2 separate regions of the Homo sapiens genome follow, and region 2 is linked to region 1. The links come from fine-mapping of genetic effects on gene expression. A gene starts in region 1. The other region holds a variant in brackets. All regions are shown on one strand. Distances are between the middles of the regions. Region 1 holds the start of HIF3A (hypoxia inducible factor 3 subunit alpha). Region 2 overlaps HIF3A (hypoxia inducible factor 3 subunit alpha).

Region 1 (2,906 bases):
ACTGGAGTTCAGGTATGGCTGGATCCAGGCACTCAAGTGCTGGTGTCAAAACTGCCTTTCACAATCGTTCATTTCTGCACAATCTCTTTTGCACTGAACCTCATCTCATAAAGCCTCTCCTCTCTTTGTGGCAGTGTGAGCCCCATCTGCTCCATCTGCCCAGCAATTCCAGCAGACATAGAAAATCCTCTTTCCTAATGGTTTCAGCAAATGTCTCAGGGTTGATTCTCATTGGGCTAAATTAGGTAACATGCCTTCCCTGAACCAATCACTGTGGCCAGGGAAGCAGACTCAACTGATTAGCCAGGTTTGGATCCTATGTCCATCCCTGGAGCTGGTGAAGGCAGAGCAGTGGCCAAGCCCTATTCAAATTAAATAGATGAAGAGGACAGAGAAGTGGTTTCCCAAAAGAAAACAGAGTGGGGAACTGGCGTGAGCCGGGGAGCCGTGTGGATTCCTGGAGGAAGAGTGTGCTAAGCTGTGGGAACAGCAAGTGCAAAGGCCCTAAGGTGAGCAACTTGCCTGGCAAGTTCAAGGTTCAACAAGGCCACTTCTGCTGTAGTATCCTCTTCCCTGCCAACCAAATCCAGAATAGTGGTCCAACACACACACACACACACACACACACACACACTCTGTTCCTTATCCAACTGTAATGCTTTCACCCTTGCTTGGTACCTTTGTACTTCTCCCTTCATAGTCGACTAGTTAAAAAAAAATACATTTCTCGGCTCTTTTTTGAAGTAGGTGTGATTGAGTTAAAACATATTTACTTGACATAAGCTTAATTATTCATCAATGGGAACCTGAAAAGGGAGTCAGAGAGGCCAAGAGGTTAGGGTGGAGTAGAGGGGGTAGGGAAGGTAAGCTGGGGTGCAGAGGGTGCAGACTGGAGGAATGGGGGCGAAGTGGGGTATGGGACTGGGGTGGCAGGGAGGGGCTGGGGAGAGAGAGAGAAGGGTAGGTGCCAGAGGGCCAAGGATTGTGGAACTGGGGTGGGGTTGGGAGTTGGGGGGTGGGGAGGAGATGTGGGGTACTCTGTGAATACCTTAGAAGGGATAGAGAAGGCAGGGCTAGGGGTTTGGAAGGGGTGGGATTGGAGGTCAGAGGGGCTCAACTGGGGTTAGGAAATGGAAAGGTGAGAAGAGGTGGGGGTTAGAGGCTGGGGACTGGGGTCCAGAGAGCAGAGTGAACTGAGTGGGTTCAGAAGAGTACTGGCGTTGGCACTTCAGAGGCTGGACTAGAGAAGGCGCGTTCAGCCGACGGTGCGGGATACACTGCCGAGGAAGTCCGCGGCGAGGGGCGTGGTTGGGGGGTGTGTATTACACGGTATCCCCCCCTTGCCTTTCCAAGTCTTTCCCTCTGGTTCCGCCTCCTTTTCAGGAGTGACATACCGTTGCCCAATCAGAGCCTCAGGCCTGGCGTGGCACAGCCAACCGCGCGGCGTGGGGAGGAGCTGGGGAGGGGGCTCGCAAGGCCGGGGAGGGGGCTAGGGGCCTCCGAGGGCTCCGGAGCGGCGACTGGCGAGCCATGGCGCTGGGGCTGCAGCGCGCAAGGTACTGAAGTTCGGGGGCAGGAGTTCTGGGAATTGGGGGGCTCTCCTCCTGGAGACCCCTGAGCTGGATTGTTGGGGGGGGTGGGGTTCGCGGGTGCGAGCCAAGAACGCCCCGGGGCGCGCAGTTGGAGGCACATCCCCACCGCACTCTCCACCCTTAGGGACTGCAGGGGTGGGGGATTCCCTACGTCTCTGGCTGCCCCGCCCCTCTGGCCAAGAGCGGCTTCGGGGTTCCCGATTTCTCGCTACCCAAGGCTCATTTACCCTCCTGGTTGGGGGTGGAACTTGGGATTCCTGATAAATTAGGGGTGATTGCATTTGAGCAGTCCCCAGGCTTCTGCGGGAGATATTCGCCCTCCACATATTGATCCCTCTGGCCTCTGAACCCCCCAAAATTGAGGGTATTCTTTGCCACCAGGTGCCTGGGATCCTAGGTGATATGGGATACCCCTAAATGGAGCCTTCCCACATATAGGGAGTCCCTTGGAATGGCATTCAGCTCCTGAGTTCAAGAGAGGAGAGATCTCCTCTAATAGTATGCTTCCTGACACAGTCTCCTAAACATTGGGTTTCCCTAGAAATGGGCAGAGGGGAGCCCCTTTCAGAAGCCGTCTGGGACCCTTCCCAAGAGACTTTTTGTATCCTTTCAAAAGCCAGAGTCACCCCCTTAAATAACAGGGAAACAAGCTGGACCCACTTCCCAAAGTCCAGCCCCTCATCTCACCCCTGCACCCCCATCCTGAGAGACAGGGGAGCCTCATCCAAGCTTTATTTTGGGGAGACTCCATGGCAGGGTGCTGTGAGCCTGCAGGCTGTGATGGGAACGCCCCCTGCCGCAGTACTCAGATGGGGTCATCCCGGGCAGAGGGTGGGTTTCTGGGTTCACTTGCCCAGCAGGTGCAGCTCTGCTGGAACACAGGGGAACCTGTGCCCTGGGGCCGCTGCCGGGGGGTTTTATCTGGCCATGTTCCCATGGGACCCTGGAAAATGTTCTAGGTCCTCAGCTTTCCCTGTCCAATGTGAGGCACCCAGTAAGCCTCACCCCCTTCCCTCCTCCCTGGCTTCTCAGGCCTGATTGGATCCATGCACACCCCATGTTTCTAACCGCCCCCATCCTCTCCCCTGTCCCCTACTCTATTCCAGGCCCTGGCTCTGGGCCTAACAAGGAACTCTATCCCACCCCTTTTGGGCCAGCTGTCGTTCCGCCCCTCTCAGCGCCCCCTCCTGGCTGGGTGGGGGCCCCTCTTGGCTGAGCTCGGGTGCCCCCCCTCCCCACCCAAGGCCGGCCCTTTCCTGTGGAGTCATCTCACCGCCGTGCGCACCCACTCGTAACTCGCACCCGGGTCCTGGC
Region 2 (2,906 bases), 26 kb after region 1:
CTGAAGTTCACACCTGGGCTGGGAGCAGTGGTTTATGCCTGCAATCCCAGCACTTTGGGAGGCCGAGGTGGGCGGATCACTTGAGGTCAGGAGTTTGAGATCAGCCTGGCCAACATGGTGAAACCCTGTCTCTATAAAAAATACAAAACTTAGCTGGGTGTGATGGCGGGCACCTGTAATCCCAGCTACTCTGGAGACTGAGGCAGGAGAATTGCTCGAACCCAGGAGGCAGAGGCTGCAGTGAACTGAGATAGTGCCACTGCACTCCATTCTGGGCAACAGAGCTAGACTCCATCTCAAAAATAAAAATAAAGTTCACACCTGGCCCAGCAGGGGTCCTCCAGGCCCCTTCCTTACCCTCTCACTAAGAACAGTGGCCATCCTGACCTGCTGAAGATGTCAACTGTGTTCCTGGGGTTGGTATGGAGGGCTCTGGCCCTTGGCCCTCAGTCACCAGCCCGTGTCCTCCCCATCTCCATGTGTCCTGCAGACACCCCTGGCCCCCGGATCCTTGCCTTCCTGCACCCGCCTTCCCTGAGCGAGGCTGCCCTGGCCGCTGACCCCCGCCGTTTCTGCAGCCCTGACCTCCGTCGCCTCCTGGGACCCATCCTGGATGGGGCTTCAGTAGCAGCCACTCCCAGCACCCCGCTGGCCACACGGCACCCCCAAAGTCCTCTTTCGGTAAGCCATCCCACCCATGTGAGCCCTCAGCATCCAGTGCTCAGTCCCTCAGGGGGTCTTGGCCTGTGACTTAAACCTGACTGTTCTCTGGGCCTCAGCTTCTCCATCTGTGTAGTGGGGAGGTTGGGATGAGATGGGGTTGAGGTTCCTTTAAGACGCAGATCCAGATTTTTCAATTGTTAGAATTCCAGAGTCTGGCTCTGTTTAGGGAAAAACTCTCTCAAGCTATGTTTTTCCTCTGCTCTCCTAATAATGCAACAATCGTCAACACAGAAGAAGACTTCTGTGACCAAATGTGGGCAGTTTTTCCCACACACCAAGCAGCGGACACCAGCTGGGTGTCCTCCAATTCAATTCCGGCATCATCTACCTGGAGATAGTGTCAGATTTCACAGGTTGGGCCTCAGTCCCCAAGACTGCTCTTTGCTCTTCAGACACCAGTCACAAGTCTGGGCCTCCAGAATTTCTTTTTTATTTTTATTTTTATTTT[C/T]GAGATGGAGTCTCACTCTGTCACCCAGGCTGGAATGCAGTGGCGCAATCTCGGCTCACTGCAACCTCCACCTCCGAGGTTCAAGCAATTCTCTTGCCTCAGCCTCCCAAGTAGCTGAGATTACAGGTGCATGCCACCACACCTGGTTAATTTTTTGTATTTTTAGTAGAGGCAGGGTTTCACCATGTTGGCCAGGCTGGTCTCGAGCTCCTGACATCAAGTGATCTTCCGGCCTCGGCCTCCCAGAGTGCTGGGATTACAGGTGTGAGCCACCGTACCTGGCTCTTTGGGTTTGATTAATTTGCTGGAGCGGCTCACAGTAATCAGGACAACACTTATTTAGGTTTACTGGTTCATTGTCAAGGATATTGCACGGATACGGATGAAGGGATACATTGAGTGAGGTATGGAGGAATGTAGGGTTTCGGAGCTTCCATGCCGTCCCGGGCACCACCCTCCAGAAACCTCCATGGGTCAGCTATCTGGAAGCCCCTCCAACCCAGTCCTCTTGGGTTTTTATGGAAGCTTCATGACATCAGCATTCCTTCCCCCAGGGTATCGGGCAGGACCCTCTCTGGGGACAGTGGTTTTTTTTTTGTTGTTTTTTTTTTGAGACGGAGTTTTGCTCTTATCGCCCAGGCTGGAGTGCAATGGCATGATCTCAGCTCACCACAACCTGCGCCTCCTGGATTCAAGCAATGCTCCTGCCTCAGCCTCCCAAGTAGCTGAGATTACAGGCGCACACTACCACGCCCAGTTAATTTTTTTATTTTTAGTAGAGACGGGGTTTCACCATGTTTGTCAGGCTGGTCTCGAACTCCTGACCTCATGATCCACCCGCCTCGGCCTCCCAAAGTGCTAGGATTACAGGCATGAGCCACCGCGCCCGGCCTCTGGGGACAGTCTTATGACCCACAATCAAAAAGGCAGGGGAAGATTAGAGACCTGCCTTTGGGCAGGTGAAACGAGGGCAGAAGAAGGCTGGAGAGGTTCTGTTTCCTGAGGCCTAACACACCCAGTGTTCTAACAAAAGACTGTTAGAACTGTTTTACTAGACTGTTCTAATAAAAGACTGTTCTAACAAAAGACAACGGCCATGGGAGTTTGACCCAGGAACCATGCACAAAATCATATATATATATGTGTGTATAAAATAACACCACAGGCCCTGTATTAGTCTGTCTTCACGCTGCTGCTAAAGACATACCCAAGTCTGGGTAATTTATAAAGAAAAAAAGATTTAATGGACTCACGGTTCCACATGGCTGGGGAGGCCTCACAATCATGGCGGAAGGTGAAAGATATGTCTTACATGGCGGCAGGCAAGAGAGAACGAAAACCAAGCGAAAGGGGTTTCCCCTTATAAAACCATCAGCTCTCATGAGACTTATTCACTATCACGAGGACAGTATGGGAGAGACCACCCCCATGATTCAATTATCGCTGACCAGGTCCCTCCCACAGTGTGTGGGAATTATGGGACTATAGTTCAAGATGAGATTTGGGTGGGGACGCAGCCAAACCCTATCAGGCCCCTAACCTGGGATGTTTGGAACTGGCACAGATGACCCTCCTCCCACTCCAGCTTGTGACTAAGCATCCAGTTCTCTGAACTTTGACCTCAAAGAGTCAAAGTGTCTAATATCCTGATTTATACAGACCTGGATTAAATCCTAAATCTGCCATTTATCAGCCACGTTACCCTGGCTGGGCAAGCAAGTTCTTGAGGCCTTAA

What was found. PIP is the estimated chance that this variant, and not a neighbour inherited with it, causes the effect.
Region 2: its variant is the best candidate, but not a certain one, in a credible set for the expression of HIF3A in caudate (GTEx, PIP 0.53).

The regions. Positions count from the first base shown.
Region 1 is chr19:46,295,547-46,298,452 of GRCh38, forward strand. HIF3A (hypoxia inducible factor 3 subunit alpha) reads left to right here and starts at 1,496. Exons shown (of 15, transcript NM_152795.4): 1 at 1,496-1,556. The coding sequence starts at 1,531.
Region 2 is chr19:46,321,286-46,324,191 of GRCh38, forward strand. It overlaps HIF3A (hypoxia inducible factor 3 subunit alpha), which reads left to right. Exons shown (of 15, transcript NM_152795.4): 10 at 491-681. Among named protein-coding and RNA genes, the nearest start is that of PPP5C, 24 kb to the right of the region's middle. The variant C/T (reference allele first, on the strand shown) is at 1,172.